Regions from separate parts of the Homo sapiens genome. Here region 2 is linked to region 1. Evidence: fine-mapped expression QTL. A gene starts in region 1. The other region holds a variant in brackets. All regions are shown on one strand. Distances are between the middles of the regions.

Evidence for each region. PIP is the estimated chance that this variant, and not a neighbour inherited with it, causes the effect. A credible set is the group of variants that fine-mapping cannot tell apart.
Region 2: its variant is the best candidate, but not a certain one, in a credible set for the expression of PPP1R26 in whole blood (TOPMed, PIP 0.76).

What each region holds. Positions count from the first base shown.
Region 1 is chr9:135,473,831-135,483,306 of GRCh38, reverse strand. It overlaps PPP1R26 (protein phosphatase 1 regulatory subunit 26), which reads right to left and starts at 3,525. Exons shown (of 4, transcript NM_014811.5): 1 at 3,285-3,525; 2 at 492-624. RefSeq lists silencers at 2,884-2,933, 2,944-3,003.
Region 2 is chr9:135,437,363-135,446,838 of GRCh38, reverse strand. LOC124902306 (a long non-coding RNA gene) reads left to right here and starts at 2,588. Exons shown (of 2, transcript XR_007061850.1): 1 at 2,588-2,969; 2 at 8,771-9,476. The variant C/T (reference allele first, on the strand shown) is at 5,256.

The DNA of each region.
Region 1 (9,476 bases):
AAAAACGTGAGGCTGTGGCCAGGTGTGGTGGCTCACGCCTGTAATCCAGCACTTTGGAAGGCCGAGGCGGGTGGATCACCTGAGGTCAGGAGCTCAAGATCAGCCTGACCAATATAGTGAAACTCCATCTCTACTAAAAAAACACAAAAATTAGCCGGGCATGGTGGCGCATGCCTGTAATCCCAGCTACTTGGGAGGCTGAGGCAGGAGAATTGCTCGAACCCAGGAGGTAGAGTTTGCAGTGAGCTGAGATCATGCCACTGCACTCCAGTCTGGGCGACAGAATGAGACTCCATCTCAAAAAAAAAAAAAAAAAAAAGAAAGAAAGAAAAAGAAACAAAAGGTGAGCCTGGCCACCTACACACAGGTGAGCCCAAAAGGGGTAACCAGCAATTAACCAGGGGGTGAGACAGATTCAGAAGTAAGTCATTTGCTAGCACCAATTTGTGCCCTACAAGGGAAACTAAAATACAAGAATTACTTGAAATTACTTGAAATTCTGTGAGTCCAGGTTGACTGTGATGAAATGGCAGCCAGTGTTCCCACACGGCCCAGAGATCAGGTCCTCATCACTCCACTTACACACCGAGGCATTCTCTCTCTGCTTTTTCAATAGACTTTTGACTACCAGAATCAAAGAGAATCAGAGGCATCTAATTACAGGCTGAAGCTACAGTTGATAAATTTTTTTTTTTTGGAAAGAAATATCATTAACTTAAGGGCTCAAAATTAACTTTTGAAGGAACTTACTCTAAGACATTTAACCACAAGTACAAATATATTTAACTTAATGTATTAAGACAAATACATTTAACCACAAGTAATGTATAGCTATCCTGGACAGCAGATCTGATGCTGGCTGAAGTGATGGGGATGGGGCACGTATGTGACGTTATCTGCTAGTTCTCAAATTCTGGCCACCCACTGCAGCCCATGACATCCCCCATAAAGTCACCTTCTGGAGAGATTCCCCACTGACACAGAGCACTGGGGGACCAACAATGCGAGAGGAGCTCTTTCACTGGCTAGCAAACCCACGCCTGCCTTACTGTAGGTGTTATTCAAATTGCCTCTGCAAAATGACATAAATGACAAAACATTTGCATTAGCCTTGGGCTGAGGAGCGTCTAAATTAAGACTATTGACTCCTTAAACAGCAATACTACCTTAAGAATACTACCTTAAATACTACCTTAAGAAAACCGGCCCAAGTCAGTGTCTTTACACTAGATGACAAGGTCGGGGAGGGGAGTTTTCCTGGGGAAATAGTCTGTTCTCCACTAGCCACATTTACAGCTTCTGACTGGTTGCAGAGAAGGCCTGGACACCCAGTGAACAGTTTTCTAAGTTGTCAAATCACCTAGTTCAAGAATGGTATTAAAAAATCTGGCCAGGTGCAGTGGCTGACGCCTGTAATCCCAGCACTTTGGGAGGCTGAGGCAGGTGGATCACCTGAGGTCAGGAGTTTGAGACCAGCCTGGCCAATATGGTGAAACCCCTCCTCTGCTAAAAATACAAAAATTAGCTGGGCGTGGTGGCGTGTGCCCGTAATCCCAGCTACTGGGGAGGCTGAGACAGGAGAATTGCTTGAACCCAGGAGGCAGAGGTTGCAGTGAGCCGAGATCGCGCCACTGCACTCCAGCCTAGGAGACAGAACGAGACTCCATCTCAGAAAGAAAAAAAAAAATCGAGGGGGGTCGTCTCCCCAGGACAGCTTGTGGCTTTAAAACATTATGCGAGATGAATCATTCTTGAAAAGCCCCCTGGGTCGGGGATAGTGGCTCACACCTGTAATCCCAGCACTCTGGGAGGTGGAGGCAGGTGGATCACTTGAGGCCAGGAGTTCGAGACCAGCCTGGCCAACATGGCGAAACCCCATCTCTACTAAAAACACATAAATTAGCTGGGCGTGGGAGCCCACGTCTGTAGTTCCAGCTACTCCAGGGGCTGAGGCACGAGAATCGCTTGAACCAGGGAGGCGGAGATTACAGTGAGCCGAGATCAGCCATTGCACTCCAGCCTGGGCGACAAAGCGAGACTCTGGCTCTAAAAAAAAAAAAAAAAAAAAAACAAGAAAAGCCCCCTAATCAGTCCTTAGAGATAGGTGTGGGCCCAAGCCAGAGGTGCAGGCTTTGTCAAATTGCTGCCTCAGGATACGGTCTTGAGGGTGGCTGTGGGGACACCCAGCACCTGCACCCCAAGGCCACACGGTGTCAGATTTTAGGAAGCGGTGGAGAACACTCGGGTACCTTCTCGGTCCAGACATCAACCTTCTGGAGAGAACCAAAGCACCCACACTGGGCCCTCGCCATCCTAACAGTCTGCCCACCTGTGAGAAACGCCCCCAAATACTCTACATTTCTCGGTTGGCCGAAAAGCAGCTCAGCCAGCGGTCTTACCTCCCAGGTGGGGTTTCCCCCCAGGGTAGGGAGGCCAGGGTCTGCAGGCCAGGGAGAGGAGCCCCGGTGCAGGAGCGGGCGGGGCAGCAGGAGGACCCGCTCCAGCCACCCAGAAGTGGGCGTGGGCTAGAATTCAGCTCCCAGCCTTCCAGAAGCTGCAATTTTACAACCTCACTACAAGCGTCCCCCAGCAAAGCTGCACCGCCATTTCCTGTGCTTGGGAACTGAAGGCAAGGTGAGCCCCTCCCGGCTGCCCCGGCCCGACCTCCCCTGACTCCCAAGCTTGGGCTACTCACGGCCTGCGGGCTGGGCAGGGTCCCCCAAGGGAGCTCCCCTCCCCGAGGGCGCGCTCACCCTAGCCGCTGGGATCGGCGACCTGGTCCTCGGCCCGGCGGGAGTGAACGCCTCCCAGGGAAGAGGCCGGGCCTCCAAGCAGGTCTGCACCCCCGGAGTTATGTTTCTGGGATCCGAGGACTAGCGAGCTTGGGGCCCGGGAGAGCGGCCACCCTCCCGGAAGCTCCGCCTGGCGCAGGGCGTGAACCGCAGTCTCCAGGCCGGCCGGGCCGCGGCCATTCTCGGAGGGCAGCGGCCGCCCCGGGCCGGGCCAAAGCTCCCCACCGCGGGCCCTCACCTGCGCCTCACCTGGGGCTCCAGGAGCGCGGGGCGCGCGGGCCGAGAGTCGCACGGAGGCCAGAGACAGGATCCCCGCCCGGGGAACGGAGCAGCCCCGGCGCCGATCCCCGTCCGCCTGCCTCGGGGAGCCCCCGCCGCCCGCCCGCCGCGGCCTGCACGGCGCGCCGGCCCCGGCCTGGCTGGCCCTCCTGTCCCCGACCCCCCAGCTTCCCAGCCCCCGAGCCCCCCGGCCCCGGCCCTGCACCCGCTCACCTCCGCCCGTCCCCCGCCGCCCGCCGCGCGGACCCCGCCTGCGCCCGCGTCCCACGTCCCGGGGGAGGCGGCGGGCCGGGGGCGGGCCGGAGGCTGCAGGGCCAGCGCGCTCCGCCCTCGGCCGGGGCGCGGGGAGGGGGCGCAGGGGCGTCCGGCCGGGCCCCCCGCCTCCCCGCCTCCCCGCGCGCCGCCGCTGCCGCCGCCCCGCGCCCGGGCCGCGCCGTGGGAAGCGCGGGAGGGGAGGGGCGGGGCGGGGGGCGGGGCGACCCCCCCAAGCCGCCCCCTCCCCGCGACCTACCGGACGGTGGCGGCGGCGGCCGCACTCCGGAAGCCGTGCCCGTGGCTGGGCATCATGGGAATGGCACGGCCGAGTTCCGGGGGAGGCGCGCGGCCCGGCCGGACCCCCGCCCGCGAGAGCGCGCCCACCTGCCGCCGCGCCCGCGCCCCGGGGACGCCCCCGCCCCGCCCCGCCCGGTTCGGACGCGGCCCCCTCCGCGGGGTGCGGGGCGAAGGCGCTTGGGCCGGGCCGAGCCCCGTGCTGCCCGCCTCCCGTACCGCGGCCACCTCCGGGGGGCGCGCAGGGGGCGCGGGGTCGCCGGGAAGTTCTGGGCGCGGGGGGCGTGGCCGTGGGAAAGCGCTCGGAGCCGCGGGAAGGGAGCGTGCGGGGCCCCGGCGCCAACCGAGTTCCTCCCCGAAGTTCACGCGGGGCTCCGGGCTGAGACCGGCCCGCCCGCCCCTCCAGCCCCACAGCCTTGGGCCGGGGTCGGGGGCGGCCCCCGCGTGTCCCCGCGGCTGCCCCACCCGAGCTTGCGGCGGGGAGTGGACGCACGACCTGCCCGGGGCGGCGGCTCCTCGAGCACACCTGCCGCCAGGTTCGGGGGAGGGAACAGTTTCTAGGAACTGCCCCGGACCTTGAGGCCGCTGCTGTTTCTGCTTCTGCTGTGCACTGACCATGTGACCTTGAAAGTCTTCCCAGTTTTGTTTTATAAAAGGTCCAGGGTGTGTGCCCGAGGCTGGCGGTGGCCCGGGTGTGCTCAGCATCCCCGGGCGGCGGGGAACGGGCAGACCCGACTGGATCCTCCCTCAGCGCCCACTCGTGGAAGGGGCAGATGGTGCGCAGGGGCACCGCGCTGCTTCTGTAAGCCCCCTGGGCCCTGATCCACACGTGTCTGGGAGATGAATTTGTGGGTTCGGTTCCTGTCTAGAAAGTGTCAGAGATTTGATAGGATCAAAATCAGAGACTTGCCTTGGAGGGGTGCTTCTAGTCATGCCAGCCTGGGAAGCTGGAGGGCCAGTTTTGGGTCAGGAAACCCATTAAAGAATTGTTTTAATGCCTTCGTGAATTTTTTCAAAAAGCAATTTTTTTTTTCTCATGAAATAATACTCTTTCATTACCAAACTTTGGGGAGATGATCTAATTAATAAGGTGACTTCCCAGAGACATGGGCTGTTAAGGTTTTGGCATGCTGCTTCACAGTTTTTAAAACAGTGCTGTGGTGAACAGCTTTCATGATGCCTCCTTAGAGCGGCTCTGAGCATTTCCTGCGGGCAAATCCCTAGAAGAGGCCGGCGGGCCAAAGACTATGCTGCATTTTGCCAAAATGCCCTCCAGAAATGCGGGGCCAGCCTGCCGTCCACCCACTGGTGAGCGGGCATGCCCGCTTGCCTGTCCTCTTGCCAGCCCTGAGATATGTCATTGCGTTATGTCTTTGGCAGTCTGATAGGCGAAACAGCCCTTTTCATCACTTGAATCCTAATTTCTTTGACTGCTGGTGATGTTGAACATCTTTTCATTTTATTATTGGCCATTTGGAATATTGCCTGTCTGTGTTCTTTGCCCATTTTTTATTTTTCTGTTGGGCTGTGTGTCTTTTTCTTAGGGATTCTAAGAGCTTGTTACCGTAAGGAATTTAGCTCTTCTCTGTGCTGTATGCTACTCTGTACAAGAGCGTAAATGCAATGTATGGTCGGGCGCGGCGGCTCACCCCTGTAATCCCAGCACTTTGGGAGGCCAAGTTGGGCAGATCACCTGAAGTCAGGAGTTTGAGACCAGCCTGGCTAACATGATGAAACCTCGTCTCTACTAAAAAATACAAAAATTAACCGGGTGTGGTAGCGGGTGCCTGTAATCCCAGATAATCGGGAGGCTGAGGCAGGAGAATTGCTTGAACCCAGGAGGTGGAGGTTGCAGTGAACCGAGACGGTGCCACAGCACTCCAGCCTGGGTGACAGAGCGAGACTCTGTCTCAGAAAAAAAGTGTATTGTACAACAGTACAATAACACAGAATATTGTACAGTAGTACAATATACTCTTGTACATTGCATTTATTTTTCTGTCATTTTTCTTTTGACTTTGGATTTTGGTTTTTTGTTTGTTCAACCTTTTTTTTTTTTTTTTTTTTTTTTTGAGACAGGGTCTTACTCTGTGTACACCCAGGCTGGAGTGTAGTGGCGTGATCATGGCACTGCAGCCTCAACCTCCCCCGGCTCAGGTTATCCTCCCACCTCAGCCTCCCCAGTAGCTGGGACTACAGGTGCACGTCACCACGCCTGGCTAGTTTTTGTATGTTTTTGTAGAGATGGGGTTTTGCCATGTTCCCCAGGCTGGTCTTGAACTCCTGGCTTGAGTGATCCACCCTCCTTGGCTTCCCAAAGTGCTGGGATTACAGATGGGAGCTACTGTGTCCTGCCTTTTTATTTTTTTACTACACACAAGTTTGAAGTTCTTCTGTAGCTAAATCAATCAAGTTTTCTTTTGTGGTTTCTGGCTTTGGGGTAAGGCCTGGAATAGCTTTTACCACTCTAAGATTTCATAATCATTCACCAGTTTAATCCCTGCATTCCAAAGTAAGAGAACAGTGGAGGGCATGGAGGGGTGTGACCTGGGGCTCTTGGGGAATTCCTGGGCCAGAGTGTGTGGCACGTAATAATAGTTTCTCAAAACAGGGAACACTTGTACTCCTTTTTTGAAGCTACCGATGTTCAGAGATTGGTTGGTTGGTGCTTTTTTTTTTTTTTTTATTAAATTCTTAGGAGGCCTCAACAGTGCCTTGTGAGGCCTTCATTGGAGGAACAGGAGGGGCGTCTGTCATTGTCAGACTCTCCTGTTGTGAGAGGCTCTGGCCTTGGCCTTGGGACCCCCTAGTCAGGCTCCTCACTGTGCAGTCTGTGCCTCCGGGGATCAGCACGCAGGGTCACCTTCATTATCCGCCATGGAGGAAGTGAGGACTCCTGGCATCTTTCTGCCCAGCCCGGGGCTCTGCTGTCCATGGGTGGATGGGCGGTGGCAGCAGGGACAGGTGCAGTGGGCTGCACGTCTCACCTGAGGGGCTCTGGTGGGCTCTTGGGTCCCTATGTGGCTGTTGCTCCCCTCTGGGCCTCTGCTTGGCCTTCTGTGAAGGGCACAAAGAGTCCAGTGGGACCACATGAAGGTCACTCTCCATGTGGAGTGGAGAGACCGCCTGGGAGAGATGGCTGAGGGCCTGCTGGGGACCAAAGTCTGAGCTCATAAAGAAAAGCCAGCAGTTCCTCTGTTGCTCTTTTCCTTTACAGAATTAGTTACATTGTCATAATTAAAGAAAACTCAAGGGCTGGGCTCAGTGGCTCATGCCTGTAAACCCAGCACTTTGGGAGGCCGAGGAGGGCGGATTGCCTGAGATCAGGAGTTCAAGACCAGCCTGGCCAGCATGGCGAAACCCTGTCTCTACTTAAAAAAAAAAAAAAAAAAAAAAAAAAAATTAGCTGGGTGTGGTGGTGCACACCTGGAATCCCAGCTGTCAGGAGGCTGAGGCAGGAGAATCGCTTGAACCTGGGATGGGAGACTCTGTCTCAAAACAAAAACAAAGAAACTCATGTGAAAGAAGGCAACATTTCCCCCCAACACAAGGAAGCTCCACAGTCCCCTGGGAGGACCCAAGGATGCAGGCGCCCCAGACCCTGCTGGCAGGAGGACACAGTGTCTGTTGGGAGGTCATCCTGCTGTGTCTGTTAACTATAAATTGCAGGTCACATTTGAGTGTTGCTTAGCCCTTCGTCCTGAAGTTACTTGCAGTTTGTCCAGGCACGCGCCAACAAGGACTGCTCCAACCTTGTCAAAGCAGAACCCCCGTAAGTGACCAGATGGGGAGAGTGAAATGAACCCTGGAACCTCCTGCACCTCTGGGCCTCTGCTGGAAGGGAGGCGGGTCCGTGTGCCCCAGTGCAGAAGGAGTCCAGGGAGCATAAGAAAGTGGAAAACGCTTGCAGCAGAATGATGTAAAGTGTCACCCCGGTGCATTTTCAGAATCAGGGTGGGCTGGCGTGCCACCTGGCAGAACACGCACGAAGATGTCAGGACCCGTGTGAGCGGCCTGAGTGGAAGGCCAGCAAGGGGGAGGGGAGGTTTTGGTGTTGTCTTTTGGTGTTGTCTTCTTTTATACCATTTAAATTTTCAAAACGGTGAGCATACCAGTCTCACGCCTGTAATCCCAGCACTTTGGGAGATGGAGGCGGGTGGATCAGTTGAGGTCAGGAGTTCGAGACCAGCCTGGCCAACGTGGTGAAACCCCGTCTCTACTAAAAATACAAAAAAAAAAAAAAAAAAAAAAAAAAGATTAGCCAGACATGTTGGTGGGTGCCTGTAATCCCAGCTACTTTGGAGGCTGAGGCAGGAGAATTGCTTGAGCCCAGGAGGCAGAGGTTGCAGTGAGCCGAGGTTGCACCATTGTACTCCAGCCTGGGCAGCAAGAGCAAAACTCCATCTCAAAATAAATAAATGAATAATAAATAAAATAAAAAATAAAATGGTAGGCACTGCTCTCCTATGTATGTAAACCGACTGACATAGGCTGTTTAACAGAAGGACATGAATATTCATGACTGTGAGCACAGCCCTGCGCACGCTCGGCTGTCCGTGGAGACCCGCCACCAGGTGGGGCAGCTGGCACTCTCCATCCGGACCCGGAGCCCGCAGAAAGGGGGCCAGTCCCTTCCCACCCGGGTCCAGGGAGCCCACTGGATTCAATCTTTAGAAATTCTATTTCTGCAAAAGAATTTTCGAAACCATTTACCCCAGAAGTGACTCTGCATGGCTTTATTTGGGTTCATTTCTTGATCGTTATGTTCTTAGAATTTTCCTGGCGTGAATTTTACCCTGTTTATTACTTACAATGTCAGGGGACAACGTGACTTGATGATGATCTGTTTATGAGGGAGCGTTTTAAGCTGAAACGGAAAATAAGCCCCCGAGACAGAATTATTCAGGAGACCCCGCGTGCATCGTCAGTGGGAAATGAGGACATGTCACCTTGGGTTTATTCAAGAGCAGGGTGCCTCCAATTCAGGATCTGGGAGGAAAATGACTTTCTCGCTCTGATTCCCTGCAGAAAATAAATTGGGCGAGGGCCCTTATTCTTACTAGACACTGTTTCTACGTTTGCTCCTCTCCTCAAACAGGAGGGCCTGGAGGGGCCAGCAGGAGTGCGGCGGGACAGGTGACCCCCTCCTCAAAGGCAGGAAAACCTTGCAGAGTAAAAGGCAGAGGTGACAAAGGCCAGAGGAAGTGGGCATCTCTGACCCAGACGACCTCTTGGACAGGAGCCTGCCCAGGGCGGGGGAGCTGCATGGACTTGAGAGACCTATGTGTGAGGGTTTGGCCAGGGGCACCCCCAGGACAGGATGGGGCAGGGGGCAGCCAAGCGGTCACACGGCCACGATGGAGGCTTCGGCTGATTCTCGGGGGGCCCTGGAGCATGGCAGCCCCTCAGATGGCCCCTGTCAAGGAAATTGGCCGGACATTTACACCTCTAAACCCCCTGCACGGCCATTGGACGTGGGCTGCCCCTGGGGAACCTCAGCCCGGGACTGTCATTTGGGCTGGGCAGCCGGGGACCATGGAGTGCTCCTGCCCTGAAGGGGGCCCAGACAGCTGCCCTGTGTCACCCCAAGTTCCCCAGGACCCTCCTTCCTGGGGAAGCAGCAACTGGAATCTTTTACTTCAGAAACTCTGCTAGGAGCTCACTTTCTCCATCTCTTAGGCAAAGAGTTAGTTCACTTGTTAAGTCTCTCTGAGAAATGTTATCTCAACCATGTTCAGTGGAAGAGGCTGCTGAAGCCGTATCAGAAATGATAAGCTGATAAGACTTAGCTATACAACTCTGAAATAGAATGTTGGCAATCAAGGTTAAAACAATGGTGAATGTGACGAGGGGAAC
Region 2 (9,476 bases), 36 kb after region 1:
CTCTCCCCTGATCCCGGCCAGCCCTTCCTCTTCACCTGTTTCCCCCATCTCCCCCCACCCCAGCCAGCCCTTCCTCTTCACCTGTTTCCCCCCTACTCCCCCCACCCCTGCCAGCCCTTCCTCTTCACCTGTTTCCCCTCCCCCTCCCCCCACCCCTGCCAGCCCTTCCTCTTCACCTGTTTTCCCCCTCTCCCCCCACCCCTGCCAGCCCTTCCTCTTCACCTGTTTCCCCTCTCCTCCCCAGACCCCTGCCAGCCCTTCCTCTTCACCTGTTTCCCCTCCCTGCACCCCAGACAGCCCTTCCTCTTCACCTGTTTCCCCTCCCTGCACCCCAGACAGCCCTTCCTCTTCACCTGTTTCTCCCCCTCCCCCCACCCCAGCCAGCCCTTCCTCTTTACCTGTTTCCCCTCCCCTCCCCCCACCCCAGACAGCCCTTCCTATTCACCTGTTTCCCCGCCTCCCCCGTCTGGAATGGCTAAATACACTCTTTGGTGAAGTGCTGGGTCAGGCCTCTTGTCTATTTTTCCTATTGTGTTAATGATCATTTTTCTTGCTGCTTCATAAAATTTCTTTAAATAATAAAATGGAAATGACTGAAAATGGCTATTTTTGGTTACATATATTACAAATATTTTATTCCACTTTCTAACTTGCCTTTTCCTTTTCTTCCTGGAATCTTTTGATGAATAGAATCTCTTATCTTCTTCCCATTTTGAAAGCTGTGGTAAAATAGGCTGGGCATGGTGGCTCGTGCCTGTAATCCCAGCACTTTGAGAGGCCGAGGTGGGCTAATCATTTGAGGTCAGGAGTTCGAGACCAGCCTGGCCAACATGGCGAAACCCCATCTCTACTAAAAATACAAAAATTAGCCCGGCGTGGTGACCCACGCCTGTAATCCCAGCAACCCAGGAGGCTGAGGCAGGATAAATGCTTGAACCCAGGAGGTGGAGGTTGCAGTGAGCTGAGATCGCGCCACTGCACTCCGGTCTGGATGACAAAGCAAGACTCCTTCTCAAACAAACAAACAAAAAATTGTGGTAAAACAGACATAACATAAAATTTACCATCTTAACCCTTTTTAAGTGTAAAGCTTAGTTGCATTAAGTAAATTTATAATACTGTGCGGCCATTGCCACCAAGCATCTTCAGAACTCTTTCCACCTTGTAAAGCTGAAGCTGTACACTCATTCAACAACCTCCCACGATCCCCTTCCAGCTCCTGCAACCACCTTTCCACTCTGTCACCATGAATTGGACTGCTCTAGGCCCCTCACGTAAGTAGAATCCTAAAGCATCTGCCTTTATGTGACTGGTTTGTGTCGCTTAGCACAGTGTCCTTAAGATCCGTCCGCCCTGTAGCATGTGTCAGAATTGCGTTCCTTTTTTTTTTTTTTTTTTGACGGAGTCTTGCTCTGTCGCCCAGGCTAGAGTGCAGTGGCGTGATCTCGGCTCACTGCAAGCTCCACCTCCTGGGTTCACCCCATTCTCCTGCCTCAGCCTCCGGAGTAGCTGGGACTACAGGCGCCCGCCACCACGCCCGGCGAATTTGTTGTATTTTTAGTAGAGATGGGGTTTCACCGTGTTAGCCAGGATGGTCTTGATCTCCTGACCTCGTGATCCACCCATCTTGGCCTCCCAAAGTGCTGGGATTACAGGCATGAGCCACTGCACCCAGCTAGAATTGTGTTCCTTTTTAAGGCTGAATAATATTCCGTGGTTCGTATATACCACATTTTGCTTGTCCGTTCACCTGTGGGTGGACACTTGGGTTGCTTCTGTTTCAGTGATTGTGAATAATGCTGTTAGGAACACGGGTATGAAAATATTTCTTAGAGACCCTGCTTTCAATTCTTTTGCGTATATGCCCAGAAGAATTCCTGGACCATTTGGTTATTCTTTTTTTGCTTTTGTGAGGAAATGTCATAGTATTTCCCCAAGCAGCTGTACCATTTTATATTCTCATCAACAGTACGCAAATGAGTTTTTGTTTGTTTGTTTTGAGACAGGGTCTGGCTCTGTCCCCCAGGCTGGAGTGCAGTGGGGCCACCTCCACCTCCAAGGCTCAAGCGATCCTCCCACCTCAGTCTCCCGAGTAGCTGGGACCACAGGCACACACCACCATGCCTGGCTAATTTTCGTATTTTTTTTGTAGAGATAGAGTCTTGCTATGTTGCCCAGGCTGGTCTCAAACTCTTGGGCTCAAGTGATTTCCCGTCTTGACCTCCCAAAGTTCTAGAATTACCGGTGTCAGCCACCGTGTACGGCCCTGCAAATGTTTCAATTTCTTTACAGCTTCACCAACACTTTTTTTTTTTAGCAGTAGCCATCCTAATGGGTGTGAGGTGGTGAGGCGAGAAGCCATTTCTCTTACTGTCTCCTGTCTCTGAAAAAGAGGAGGAAGTAAAAGTTGAAAAACAACAGGAATGAAGTCAGTGGCAAGACCAGCTTGTGCCACTGATGACCCGGCCTGAGGTTAAAAGATTAAGCCCCGCCCCCCCCACTCTAACCACAGGTGCTCTCAATCCATCACGACCCTTTCACGTGGAACCACTTAGCCCTTAAAAGGGCCAGGAACTCTGTCTTCGGGGAGCTGGGCTCTTAAGACACCAGTCGGCCAATGCTCCCGGCCGAATGAAAAAACCTCTTCCTTCTTTAATCCGGTGTCTGAGGAGTTTTGTCTGCCGCTGGTCCTGTTACATTTCTTGGTTCCCTGACTGGGAAACGAGGTGATTAACGGACCGTTGAGGCAGCCCTTTAGGCCGCTTAGGCCTGCCCTGTGGAGCATCCCTGCGGGGGACTCCGACCAGCTCCAGCAACGCGGATCCTGAGAGCGCTCCCACGTAGGAAATTGCCCCGGTGGAACGCCTCGTCAGAGCAGCGCGTGGCAGGCCCCGGTGGAGGTTCAACGCAATGGCTGAACACCGGGAAGGAACTGGCACTGAACATCTGGTCTGGACATCTGAAACTTGGTAAGACTGGTCTTTGGAACTTGCCCACTCCATTTGAGTGGAAGTGTGGCTTGATCACCCATGGTGTGCCTGTACCGGCACTTTGGTTCTTGTTTTTGACTTGACTTGGATTGCTTGATACTTTGGTTTTGGTTTTGACCTGGCTTGGATTTCTGGATACTCCAGTTTTGGTTTTGATTCTGGTCTGGTGTAAACTGAGAAAGTGTGTGTGTGCCTTTTTTACCTGTTCTTTGTTCTGTGGTGTGCGTGTGGTGTGAGCGTGGTGTTTTGTCTCGAGGAAACGGGTCAGACACAAAGTAAGCCCACTCCGCTAGGAACTATGTTGAAAAATTTCAAGGAAGGATTTAATGGAGACTATGGGGTTACTATGACACCAGGGAAACTTAGAACTTTGTGTGAAATAGATTGGCCAACATTAGAAGTGGGTTGGCCATCAGAAGGAAGCCTGGACAGTTCCCTTGTTTCTAAGGTGTGGCACAAGGTAACCGGTAAAGGATACCTAGACCAGTTCCCATACATAGACACTTGGTTACAGCTGGTGCTAGACCCCCCACAGTGGCTAAGAGGGCAGGCAGCAGCAATGCTAGTAGCAAAGGGACAGATAGCCAAGGAAGGATCCCGCTCCACCCGCCCAGGGAAATCAACTCCTGAAGTTCTGTTTGACCCAACATCAGAAGATCCATTGCAGGAGATGGCACCAGTGATCCCAGTGGTGCCCTCCCCTTACCAGGGAGAGAGGCTCCCCAGTCTTGAGCCCACAGTGCTTGCACCTCTGCAAGACAAGCATATCCCTAGGCCACCCAGAATAGACAAGAGAGGAGGTGAAGCCTCGGGAGAAACCCCTCCCTTGGCAGCTCGTTTAAGACCCAAAACTGGGATACAAATGCACCTGAGAGAGCAGCAGTATACTGGGAGAGATGAGGATGGTCACATGGTGGAGAGGCGTGTTTTTGTGTACCAGCCCTTCACCTCTGCCGACCTTCTCAACTGGAAAAACAATACCCCGTCCTATACCGAAAAGCCACAAGCTCAAATTGATTTGCTCCCAACTATTATGCAGACCCATAACCCCACTTGGGCTGATTGCCACCAGCTGCTCATGTTCCTCTTTAATGCAGATGTAAGGTGGAGAGTGCTCCAAGCAGCAACTAAGTGGCTAGAGGAACATGCACCAGCTGATTATCAAAACCCCCAAGAGTATGTAAGGACCCAGTTACCAGGAACCGACCCCCAGTGGGGCCCAAATGAAAGAGAGGATATGCAAAGGCTAAAGGGAGACAGGGAAGCTGTCTTGGAAGGGTTAAAGAGGGGAGCTCAGAAGACCACAAACGTTAACAAGGTCTCTGAGGTCATTCAGGGAAAAGAAGAAAGTCCAGCACAATTCTCTGAGAGACTGTGTGAGGCCTATCGCATGTATACTCCCTTTGATCCCGATAGCCGTGAAAATCAGCGCATGATTCAAATGGCTTTAGTTAAAGCGCAGAAGACATTAGAAGAAAACTGCAGAAACAGACTGGGTTTGCAGGGATGAACACATCAGTTACTAGAAATAGCTAACCAGGTGTTTGTAAACAGGGATGCAGTAAGCCGTAAGGAAAACCGCAAAGAGAATGAACGTCAGGCCTGGCGAAAGGCCGACCTGTTAGCTGCAGCAATCAGAGGGGTCCCCCCAAAGAGGCCAGGGAAGGGGGCCCTGGGAAAAAACTCAACTTGGTTGTCAGAGCTTGCAGAGTAACCAGTGTGCTTATTGTAAAGAAATAGGATATTGGAAGAACAAATGCCCTCAGCTAAAAAGAAAACAAGGTGACTCAGAGCAGGAGGCCCCAGACGAGGAGGAAGGGGCCCTGCTCAACCTGGCAGAAGGGTTATTGGACTCAGGGGGACCGGGCTCAAGTGCCCCGAAAGAGCCTATGGTCAGCATGACAGTCGGGGGTAAAGACATTGATATTCTTGTAGATACCGTTGCTGAACATTCGGTAGTAACCGCCCCAGTTGCCCCCTTATCCAAAAAGACTATTGACATCATCGGAGCCATGGGGGTTTCAGCAAAGCAAGCTTTCTGCTTGCCTCGGACTTGTGCTGTAGGAGGACATACAGTGATTCGTCAGTTTCTGTACATGCCTGACTGTCCCTTGCCCTTGTTGGGAAGGGACTTGCTTAGCAAGCTGAGAGCCACTGTCTCTTTTACAGAGCATGGCTCTTTGCTGCTAAAGTTACCCGGAACGGGAGTCGTTATGACCCTTATGGTCCCCTGAGAGGAGGAATAGAGACTTTTCTTAACTGAGC[C/T]GGGCCAAGAGATAAGACCAGCTTTGGCTAAGCGGTGGCCAAGAGTGTGGGCGGAAGACAACCCTCCAGGATTGGCAGTCAACCAAGCCCCTGAATATGGAAGTTAAGCCTGGGGCCCAGCCGGTTAGGCAAAAACAGTCCCCAGTCCCCAGAGAAGCTCTTAAAGGTATCCAGGTTCGCCTCAAACACCTAAGAACTTTTGGAATTATAGTTCCTTGTCAGTCTCCATGGAACACTCCCCTCCTGCCTGTTCCCAAGCCAGGGACCAAGGACTACAGGCCGGTACGGGATTTGTGCTTGGTTAATCAAGCTACAGTGACTTTCCATCCAACAGTACCTAACCCGTCCACATTGTTGGGGTTGCTGCCAGCTGAGGACAGCTGGTTCACCTGCTTGGACCTAAAAGACGCTTTCTTTAGTATCAGATTAGCCCTTGAGAGCCAGAAGCTGTTTGCCTTTCAGTGGGAAGATCCGCAGTGAGGTGTCACTACTCAGTACACTTGGACCCGGCTTCCCCAAGGGTTTAAGAACTCCCCCACCATCTTCGGGGAGGCGTTGGCTCGAGACCTCCAGAAGTTTCCCACCAGAGACCTAGGCTGCGTATTGCTCCAGTATGTTGATGACCTTTTGCTGGGACACCCCATGGCAGTTGGGTGCGCCAAGGGAACGGCTGCCCTACTCCGGCACCTGGAGGACCGTGGGTATAAGGTGTCCAAGAAAAAAGCTCAGATCTGCTGACAGCAGATATGTTACTGGGATTTACTGTCCGACAGGGGGAGCGCAGCCTGGGATCAGAAAGAAAGCAGGTTATTTGCCATCTAGCGGAGCTTAAGAGCAGAAGGCAGGTGAGAGAATTCTTAGGACCTGTGGGGTTTTGTAGACTGTGGATCCCAAACTTTGCAGTATTAGCCAAGCATTTGTATGAGGTCACAAAGGGGGCGGGGACCGGGAACCTTTTGAATGGGGATCCCAACAACAGCAAGCCTGACTTAAAGAAAAAACGTACGTCAGCCCCAGCCCTGGGGCTGCCCGATCTGACAAAACCTTTTACATTGTATGTGTCAGAGAGAGAAAAGGTGGCACGTGGAGTTTTAACCCAAACTGTGGGGCCCTGGCCGAGGCCGGTGGCCTACCTCTCTAAACAACTAGATGGGGTTCCTAAAGGATGGCCCCCGTGTTTGAGGGCCTTGGCAGCAACTGCCCTGCTAGTACAAGAAGCAAATAAGCTGACTCTTGGGCAACACCTGAACATAAAGGCCTCCCGTGCTGTGGTGACTTTAATGAATACTAAAGGACATCATTGGCTAACGAATGCCACACTCACCAAGTACCAAAGTTTTCTCTGTGAAAATCCCCGTATAACCACTGAAGTTTGTAACATCTTGAACCCTGCCACTTTGCTCCCGGTGTTGTACCCGAGTGAATTAGAAAAACGCCACACTTTGAGACGAGTTAAGAGTCCTAACGCCACACTTTGAGACGAGTTAAGAGTCCTTTATTAGCTGGTGACCGAGAGAAAGCTAACGCTCAAAATTCTCTCGGCCCCGAGGAAGGGACTTGATTAATTTTTATACCCTGGTTTAGGAAGGGGAGTAGGGGGGTCTGGTTAAAACAATTTTACAGAAGTTAAGTAGTCAAAAAGTTAAAAGGATAAATGGTTACAGGAAAGTAAACAGTTCCAGGTGCAGGGGCTTTAAGACTATTACAAGGTGATAGATGCGGGGCTTTGGGCATTATCAATCAGATGAATTCTGGGGGACTGCGGATATAGCTTGCCACAGTATCTTATCAGTTAATTGCATTCTTGGATGTGCTGGGAGTCAGCTTGCACAAGTTAAGTCCTTGAGGAAGGGGCTGCCAATGAAAGAGCCAAGATGGAGTCTGTCTGGTTCTCTTAGCTAAGGGAGAGTCCATTCAGGTGGCAACAATGCTGCGTGATTAAAGGAAAAGGGGGAGTCTAAAAACAGGGTTAGTAAAAACGAGTTTGGGCGTTACACCGGTATCAGAGAGCCCTGTCGAGCATGATTGTGTAGAAGTGTTAGATTCAATTGACTCTAGCAGACCTGACCTCCGGGACTGGCCTTGGGCATCAGTAGACTGGGAACTATACGTGGACGGGAGCAGCTTCATCAACCCACAAGGAGAGAGATGTGCAGGGTATGCAGTGGTAACCCTGGACACCGTTGTTGAAGCCAGATCATTGCCCCAGGGCACTTCAGCCCAGAAAGCTGAACTCATTGCTTTCATTCGGGCCTTAGAGCTCAGGGAGGGTGAGACTGTCAACATTTACAGTGATTCTCGGTATGCCTTTTTAACCCTTCAAGTGCATGGTGCATTATATAAAGAAAAGGGCCTATTGAACTCTGGGGGAAAAGACATAAAATATCAACAAGAAATCTTGCAATGATTAGAAACAATATGGAAACCCCACAAGGTGGCAGTTATGCATTGCAGAGGACACCAGCGAGCTTCCACCTTGGTGGGTTTGGGGAATCCCCGCAGTGACTCAGAGGCTCAAAAAGCAGCATCTGCCCCCTTCTGGGCATCAGTCACAGCGCCTCTGCTCCCTCAAGCACCTGATCTTGTACCTACTTCTTCTAAAGATGAAAAGGACTTTCTCCAGGTAGAGGGAGGACAAGTGATGGAGGAAGGATGGATTCGGTTACCAGATGGGAGAGTAGCTGCACCACAGCTGCGAGGAGCTGCAGTTGTACTGGCTGTGCAGGAAACCACCCATCGAGGTCAGGAGTCACTGGAAAAGTTGTTAGGCCGGTATTTCTACATCTCGCATTTGTCAGCCCTTGCCAAAACGGTGATGCAGCAGTGTGTTACCTGCCAACAGCATCATGCGAGGCGAGGTCCAGCCATTCCACCCGGCATACAAACTTACGGAGCAGCCCCCTTTGATAGATCTCCAGGTGGACTTCACAGAAATGCCAAAGTGTGGAGGTAACAAGTATTTACTAGTTCTCGTGTGTACCCACTCTGGGTGGGTGGAGGCTTATCCAACACGAACTGAGAAACCTCGTGAAGTAACCCGTGTGCTTCTTCAAGATCTGATTCCTAGATTTGGACTGCCCTTATGGATCGGCTCAGATAACGGGCCTGCGTTTGTGGCTGACTTGGTACAGAAGATGGCAAAGGTATTGGGGATCACATGGAAACTGCATGCCGCCTACCGGCCTCAGAGTTCCGGAAAGGTGGAGCGGATGAATCGGACTATCAAAAATAGTTTAGGGAAAGTACGTCAAGAAACAGGATTAAAATGGATACAGGCTCTCCCTATGGTATTATTTAAAATTAGGTGTACCTCTTCTAAAAGAACAGGATATTCCCCTTATGAAATATTAATCATGGACCCTCTCCCTTATCGTGGGGACTTCCAGGAGAGTTAGGTGAGACTGAGTTACAGCGACAGCTACATGCTTTAGGAAAAATTACACAAACAATCTCAGCCTGGGTAAATAAGAGATGCCCTGTTAGCTTATTCTCCCCAGTTCACCCTTTCTCCCCAGGAGATCGAGTATGGATCAAGGACTGGAACGTAGCCTCTTTGTGCCCACGGTGGAAAGGACCCCAGACTGTCATCCTGACCACTCCCACCGCTGTGAAGGTAGAGGGAATCCCAGCCTGGATCCACCGCAGCCGTGTAAAACCTGCAGCGCCTGAAACCTGGGAGGCAAGACCAAGCCTGGACAACCCTTGCAGAGTGACCCTGAAGAAGACGACAAGCCCTGCTCCAGTCACACCCGGAAGCTGACTGGTCCACGCATGGCTGAAGCATGAGGAAGCTCATCGTGGAACTCATTTTTCATAAATTTTGGACTTGTACAGTAAGGACTTCAACTGACCTTCCTCAGACTGAGGTAGGGCAAAAAGTTAAAACAGTCTTTGTTTAAAAGGGACTTGTGTGTATAATGCCACCCAGTACAAGGTATGCAGCCCAGGAAGTGACCAGACTGATGTGTGCTATAACCCATTAGAACTACTTAATCCCCATTGGAAAAGAGGAGAGTATGTAACTCTAGGAGTCAATGGAACTGGACTGGCAGGAAGATCTGGGTAATGTAGATGAGAGTGAGAACTTCCACTAGTGAGTGAGGTTCTCAAAGAGGGGAATGAGGAGATAAGCCATTTCTCTTACTGTCTCCTGTCTCTGAAGAGGAGGAGGAAGAAAAAGTTGTAAAACAGCAGGAATGAAGTCAGTGCCAAGACCAGCCA